2 linked regions of the Homo sapiens genome follow. The protein of the gene in region 2 purifies or fractionates together with the protein of the main gene of each other region. This does not show direct contact. Each region holds a gene or a part of one and is shown on either strand. Other genes may lie near its edges. The genes, in order: UGT2B7 and PLAG1.

The links.
Region 1: the proteins of PLAG1 (region 2) and UGT2B7 purify together in Homo sapiens (co-immunoprecipitation; one study listed by IntAct). This does not show direct contact.

Annotation. Positions count from the first base shown.
Region 1 is NC_000004.12:69,094,916-69,099,390, reverse strand, and holds the start of UGT2B7 (UDP-glucuronosyltransferase 2B7 isoform 1 precursor), read right to left. Parts: upstream 2,918-4,475; 5' UTR 2,871-2,917; coding exon 2,150-2,870; intron 852-2,149; coding exon 703-851; intron 1-702. UniProt on the Homo sapiens protein: UDP-glucuronosyltransferase (UGT) that catalyzes phase II biotransformation reactions in which lipophilic substrates are conjugated with glucuronic acid to increase the metabolite's water solubility, thereby facilitating excretion into either the urine or bile.
Region 2 is NC_000008.11:56,201,267-56,205,096, forward strand, and holds part of PLAG1 (zinc finger protein PLAG1), read right to left. Parts: intron 1-3,830. UniProt on the Homo sapiens protein: Transcription factor whose activation results in up-regulation of target genes, such as IGFII, leading to uncontrolled cell proliferation: when overexpressed in cultured cells, higher proliferation rate and transformation are observed.

The sequences.
Region 1 (4,475 bases), on a different chromosome or scaffold from region 2:
TCCTAATACGTATCTGGCTCTAATTTGCCTCTCACCATCATCCGAGTCTTAGTCTCTCCCTGCAAACTAAACTTGAGGACTTGAGAACTGTCCTGACCACTTTACCTGCTTCTTTTTTTTTTTTTTTTTTTTTGTCTGTCTCTCCCCGTCATTCTTTTACCTATTCCTGCATATTGTTCAGCTCTCATCTTACTAATCAGTGACTGCAGGATACTTTCTATTATCTCCACTGATGCTTTCTTGGTATTGCGTTTTTCCTTCAGATAATAGTTTTTATATAATTTTTATTACTTGCACATATTCTATCTTTTGAAGTAGAATGTAAGGTATGTGGGGACAGAAACTGTGTCTATTTTTTTCTCTGAAAATTCTGCACTTACCTGTGTTTTGTGCTAATCCCTTTGTAAATATTATTTGATTGGATGACCAATACCTTCTTAGGTATTGCATAATGAAGACTTTAATTTAACCAACCCTATTTTCAAAGTCTCCTTAGTATTCCTCTCTATTTGTAATACTCATAAAACTCATATACGTGTGATGGTATTAACGTGCACATGAGTTTCTAATTGGTATCTGCTTTACCCCACCCATTTCCCATCTTTCTTTCAGTGTAAGTCAAACACTCTGAAAGAAGACTATAGAATCATTTCTACTGAAAATTCAAAGCCAACAAAATAAAACCAACAAAAGTATGTTTACCTTAGGCAGGGGTTTGGCAGGTTTGCAGTGGAGTCCTCCAACAAAATCAACATTTGGTAAGAGTGGATATGGAAACTGAAAATTCCAGGAGTTTCGAATAAGCCATACGTCAGCTTTCCCCATTGTCTCAGATAATGTAGTGGGTCTTCCTGACAGGAATAGAAAAAAAAAAGGTGGATGACACAAGATAATTACTTTAGGTAAATTTCTGAAAGGGGTTAGAATAATGTAGGCAAAAATGTAGGCAAATATCTGTGCTTTGAAAAATATATACACATATTCATATATAGATATAATTTAATTTTATGTATTACATATTTTGCCCATGTGTATTTATAAGAAAGACAAAGTAGTAGGAGAATTGTGAGGTTAAGCTACATCTCTAATGTCGCATCAGTATGCTCATAATCATAAACAATTATTAAAATGAGCCATAGAAAGTTAAACAGAAAATTTCTTTTCTCTTAAAGCTTCAATAGTAGCATACGGACATTTAAACAACTCTTTGAGCTCCATAATCAATTAATTCTACTCTACCCATAAAAATAATTTTCTAAGAAATAGTCTAGTTTACACAACTCATTAAGCTAATTCTTTTATCTTTGGTTCAAGTGAACTGTGGACTATGTTGAGAGTATGGCTGAAATCCTTGTACCAACTACTCTTTTAGATTCAAGCTAAGATCTTAATAATATTTTTAAGTAAATATATTTGTACATTATAGCTAGAAATTTTTGAGAAATTATTGAAATAAAAATTTGTACTCAACCTTAATTTGTCTCATATGTTCTAATAAAGAGACATAGTTTCAAAAAACTATGTAGATATAACAACCTTCACACTTCAACAAGATGATTGGACTTTAAATTAATGATTTCCAATTCTTTCGTGAAAGAGTATAGAAACATTAGAAACTTCAAATTGCCCTTATTGATTTTTGCATCTGAGGTATAGACATTATCTCTCTTTACTGTGAAGGAAACCTTCTGGTAATATGGGAACATCTTTTGATTTCTAAATAAGAAAACAAGTTTACAAGAAAAAACAATTTCTGCAGTTATATAGATAGTTGTAGAAAAATGTGTAACTACTCATTCTAAATCTATGCATTCAGTAAGAAGTTATTTGATGGATTTTACTGTTTTTAAGATGTAAAACAATGTATAGTAAAACAGATGTGTAATTGCTTAAAGTCTTAGATGCACTAATGTATAGGTTTATGATTTCCTGGGGTGTTCTGTGTGAGTGATGGCCACAGGGTTTTAACTGACCCTGTAATTTAAGCTTTTCTATAATATTTGTGAGATTAATAGATCATCTTGTATTTTTGTTTTATAAATTCACTTACCAAAACCCCACTACCCTGACTTTATGGCTTTATATAAGCTCTGCTTCAAAGACACAAATAAGTTAGAGCTTCATGTTACTGATTGAAAAAAATACTTACCTAGAACTTCACTATAAAACTGATCCCACTTCTTCATGTCAAATATTTCGAACCAAAAGTCAAAGTAAAGCACATAGATCATATTTTTTACCCTCTCCATGAAAGTCATTTGATCAGTTAATTCTGACATAACAACAGGTACGTAGGAAGGAGGGAAAATAAATCCTCCACTATGCTTTTCAAAAGTGTAGCCAGGAGAGAAGCTGAGACTGTACACAAAGGGTATGTTAAATAGCTCAGCCAGCAGCTCACTACAGGGAAAAATAGCATCTGCAAAAATGACGTCAAATCTTGACTCTTGTACTTTTTTCATAAATTTCTTATTTGAAACTACATCTTTACAGAACTTTCTAGTTATGTCACCAAATATTGACATGATTTCCTGTACTTGTGAAAAATATAACCAAAATGTATCTTTTGGAAGGTCTGACCATCTCTTAATCTGTTGCATGATGAAATTCTCCAACTCAGTTTTAGTTAAAGATGTGGGATAAATTTCAATTTTAAGAGCGGATGAGTTGTTGGGATCAAAAAGAATGGAAGCTGAAGATGCCAGTACAGTCACCTCATGACCTCTCTGAATAAGCTCATCCAGGATTGTCTTTATATTCATCCAATGGCTGTATTCTGCTGCCCACACCAGCACCTTTCCACAATTCCCAGAGCTAAAGCAAAAGCTCAGTTGTATTAGCAAAATTACTGAAGTCCATTTCACAGACATCCTGGTGCAATGCAATGCTTGTTTTCCAGTTGCTGTTCCTTTCTGTCATTTCTCATGGTTATGTCCAAAGATAAATTAGCCAAGAAGTTAAAATGTAACCCTTATAAGTCAAAGTACATACAATATCATTAAATCAACAGTCTGAGCATGTGGATGGCAAAGAGACAAATGAAGGTAAATGATCTGTTCACACAGATGTGATTAATTTCCCTTTTATGTTTATGAGTGCTATCCTTCAGCTAATATCAAGGATCTTGTATGGACATGCCATCTGTCTTATGCAATATATTTTAGAAGAGTGTCCAGAACAGTAGCAGTGACAGATCTTGTTTCTGCAGTCCATTTGACACAAAACTAAAGATTAAATGACTAAACATGGTCCACATATTTTTGTAAACTTTGTTGACATGTAATTTAAATATCATACTATTTATCAATTATTGTGTAAAATTTAATGTTTCATAGTATATTCACAGAATTGTGCATCTACCATAACAATCAGTTGGAGAGCCCTTTTATCTCCCCAAAATAAGCCCTATAGTCCTTAGCCTTTTTCTCTCCACCCCTAGTTTCTGCATTTCCCCTGTCCTAGGTAATTGCTAATTGAATTTCTATCTCTATAGATTTGCCTATTCTGGACAATTTTTAATGCATAGAATCATACAATATGTGGTATTTTGTGACTGGCTTCTTTTATGTAACATAATATTTTAAAGGTTCATTTATGATATAGCGTATACATGTTGATTCTTACAACCATCATGTAAGATATTGAGAGTTTCAAGATGACACTATCTTTTTAAACTTTGTTAAAGTAATCAAAGATAAAGAAAGAAAAAGAGAAAAGTAAACCAAGCTTGTAGTACATTCAGCATTAATCATTAGGTTAGCTTGTTCTCCGACTCACTTCCTCACAGTTATTTGGCTGTTGTCCTAGAATTATGCAGACCCTGTTACAAGACTATAGTTCCTCTTAATCCTTCTATAAATATTAACTTAAACATTATGAAATGATCAACTTTCCTTTTGAGGTATTCCTTCAGGTCCAGCATACTGCTAAAACTACTGACTCGGCTGGTCTGAAGGATCTCACTGATGTCAGCTGATCTGAAAGACTTCACTGATGCCAGCTGATCTAGAGGACCCCACAAGGAACTGACTCAGCAAATAATGTAGTTTCTTGTTCTGATGACTTTACCCTATTACCCTGACTAATCAATTACCCAAATTTTCCAGCCTATCACCATCTATGATCTCCTTAAAACCTCCAACCCAGAACTCCTTGAGGAGCTGGATTTAGGGTTCTCTTCTTATCTCCTTGCTCAGTGCCCTGCAATTATTAAACTCCTTCTTTGCTGCCAAATCTGACGTCTCAGTGTAATTGGACTATTATTGGACAGTAAGCATATGAAACTGTTGGTCCTATAACAAAACTTTAATGGAATAAGTAACTGCAAATATAATAAAACTAGAAAGATAACTATAATTAGAAGTGGAACTTAATGATGTAACAGAATTGATGAAATCTCATGATAAAACAAATAAGTGAGGAGTTACTACTTTTGGAGGGGCAAAGAAACTTGTTTCCTGAGATGGAATCTACTC
Region 2 (3,830 bases):
TACATTGTTTAATGAAATAAGACCATTCAAAAATTTGGGGAAAAATGTTTATTCATTATTCTGAAATCAGACAGCTTTGCAACAAATTTAAGGCCAAAATTAATAAAATTACCTATTTAAGATCCTTATTATGAGACAAAGTTTATACTTATATCTTTAGAAAAATCTCCTTTAGCTTAATAAGTTGATAAATTTCCCCAATTCCTTATGTACAGCTTAAAGATAAGTTGACATTTAGCACTTTCTAACTCGAATTACTCTGTCAACTCTATGCCTGAAATCTTCATTTTGTAAGAATGTACAATTTTCTTAAATATATGAACTTCAATATGGACATAATTTAGGTTTATACTACCCAAATAACATATAATAATTAGCTGCTATAGGTCTGTCCATTCTAAAGATTTACTTACAAAAAGTAACAGAATTCCTTCTGAAATCATTATTGCTTCTTGCATACACATTATCCCTGCAATTCCTATCTCATGAGATTGCTGTGAAAACTAAATGAGATAATATAGGTAAAAGCAAAGACTGATAGGTAGCCAAAGTATTTTATGGCTGAAGCATAGCATTAATACTCAAAATATTTTGAGAGTTATAAAAGTCATGTTGCTAACGATTCAGGGAATAATTCAACCAATCAAGTTGAGTTTCTTTTTCTTTTAAACATAAACAGTTTCTTTTTGGGCTCTTTTTTTTTTTTTTTGTTTTTACTAGGAAAAACCTTTAACTAAAACTTGGCTGAAATAAAAAATTTTGTAACATCTCATCTTTAAAGGATCAGAACCTCTGCTTTCTTATTTGATCAATTTCAAGCTAGATTTAAAATACTAGTCTAATTCTACTTTATTTCAGTGAAATGATGGATGAGATAAAGTTACTTATCTTTAAAATTTTCTGAATTTTATACTTAGCAGTTGAAGACCACACTTCTGAACTGTGCAACTTGAAAAAGATCTAGATTTTAGTACAGCATTAAACACAGAACCAGAGTATACCACAATGACTTTTATATTAATTTTAATACATATGCTCATTTTCCAGAAGTGATTTTGGATGTTATTGCTTGATTTTAAAAAGCACAGAAAACTAGTCTACGTAAGGCACTGCCATACACAGGGTGGCAGCACTGAGAACCAAACACATGCAAACAGCAAGAACACTTGGAAGGGCCAATGGAAGCACACAAGTGTGCCTGAAATCTGATTAGGACAAACTTAGACATGCGGGTATTTTGGCTTCAATTAAAAAATTTCTTTTAATTCTGGAAGAGTATCATGCATTGTACAAAAGCTATTATGAGTCAGCCTCTGAATGTGATCAATTGCACTTCTCCCACAACAAACTGCTTTCTCTACTTTTCCCTGCACTGAGGGATAAAAGGTGAACTAAGAATAATTAAATTCAAGCACCACATGAGATCTAATGTTTAAGTAGAGCAACTGTATCTCTGGTATACAGCTGAAAAGATAACCCAGGCTATGATTAAAAGTGCTCCTAGATAGGAATTTAAGAATAACATGATCTTGAGAACATATTAAATAAAAGCAGTTACAGAAGTAAAGTTTTAAAATAACTGTCTGTCACCAATCTCTCAGCAGCAATATTGTGAGATAGGAAGTACAGACATTAGTTTATACTTTCCCAAAAGAAGGGCTTTTAAGAAAAACATCTGTAACTGTACTTAAAAAATTGAAATACCATTAAAAGTATTAAATGCTTGATAATTAAGAATTTAAATACAACAGACATTCAACCAAGTACTGACCTATTTGTCACTACTTTTCTTTGAAGAATAATGAAAATAATTGAATATATCACGATCTTTAAGTAATTTTGACCACATATTTGAAAAAAAACTAATAAATTTATTAACTGTTAAAGGCTAGCTGCTTAGGAACGTCTACAGAATTTTATATGTGTATTTTGTACTTTGTTTACAAATTTCTAGGCATAAAAAGTAGATTCAGATACAAAAACAACTATCTGAATTAAAATTATGTATATTTCAGCAGTAAATCAAGTTATTCAGTTTAATATTTAAAGCTTTCATTCTATGTCTAATTAAGCCTGTTACTTGATAGTTTACTTTCATTTTGATTTGGGTAAGCAAATATGACAATATATTTTAATACAGCATCTTTCAAAACGTAATATATGCCAAATTATTGCTGAAAAAATGTCTTACACCTTTTTCTTAAAAATAAACTGAGCAAATTACATTAAAAGCTAGACCTGATAGATGTGCTTAACATACAGCATAGTTAAATCAGTTATTTGTTTGTATGACAGTAGCCCTGAGAATGCTCACGTTTTATGAAGCAAGATAAAGAAAAACATAAAATGTCACTAACTCCTGTTTGGTGTGCCTGATCATCACAGAAACTTTCCTTCTTGGAAACATTTTAAAAATCTTCCAAATAACTAGTAGGGCTGCTTCCACCACTCTTGGTGTAATTAACCTATTTTATTATACATCTATTTCTATTCTAATGCTAAAATCCTATGAAATTGAATAGTAAACATCAAGTAAAATGCTACCAACATTAGAAGAGAAAAATCTAGATTGAAATTTATACAATTAAATTACCTCAGTCTATGACAAATTAGCAAAACATATGAAGAACATTTTCTCAGATTTATTTAGAAACAATTTTAAAGGTGCAAGGAAAACAAATTCATGTTTGAGGTGTAGCTTATTTATAATAGGATATGCTGGTTATATTAATATTTGTTTTTAGGCTTATAATAGGTTATAAGGTCATAACAATCCAAATATATAAAGTGACAACTGTTCCATAAGTTGCAGTTGTGTAACACAGAATAATGGAGCTAATTTCTCTTCAATGGAATGCAGTGCTTAAATGAATTATGTTTAGGAAATACAGAAGATAGCTTAAGAAAAGGAAAGTGCTCATATATAATAAAACAGCATTTTCCCTTCATTGTCCAAAGTTGATAAAAATAAAACCTACTTATTGTAACTCTCTCAGGGTATGAAGAAAAGTGACGTGAGCTCTATGTAACTCCAGCATTAAGACAATACAAGAAAAAATCAAGTTACCGAGAAAATCTGGTAGACTAAAATCCAACCGGTGTTATTTTGAAACTGTACACTTGAACTATCTTAAGTTTCCAGGTTTAATTTCTTAAAATTCTCATGATCAAGAACAATTCAATAAATATTTACTAATGTATCTTCAAAGGAATAAAATTGATTATGACACCTTCCAATTTTGCCTTTGAGCCAAAGGGGCTAAATTCCTTATTTGCTAATTGATTTCTAGTTTAACAGTCTCCAAAAATGTATTTTAAAGTTAAAGGGCTCTAATGTCTAACCACTGGTTAAAGAGAGATAATTTTTTAAAAACTGATATGGCAGCCTTTAACATATAGCACTTATTCTGAGAATATTATCACATTCAGAAACAAAAAGATAGGAAATCACAATCAATATATATATGTGCAATTCCAATATTGGTCTGCAATAATAATTCAAATATTTAATGAGTGAAAGGCTAAAAGGGGGCTCTCATTCTCAAAAAAGAAGAGTTCAAGACTCTCTAATGGCACATCCTTCACAATCTGTAAAGGATTCTGTTGCCTTTTAAGAAAAGATGCCCCCTCCTCTCTCAAAATATTTTCTAATAGTAAAGGCAACTTCTATCCCAGAAGATTATACCAAAAGTTTAGATACTCTTTCAGAAAAGCACTTGCTAATTAATAAACGGGAAAGAAAAAATTCCTTTAATCGGCAGCATAGACCTAAAAACATACCAGAAATTAGGAGCTTTGTTGGTGAAATGTTATCATTATCTTGTGAAAGG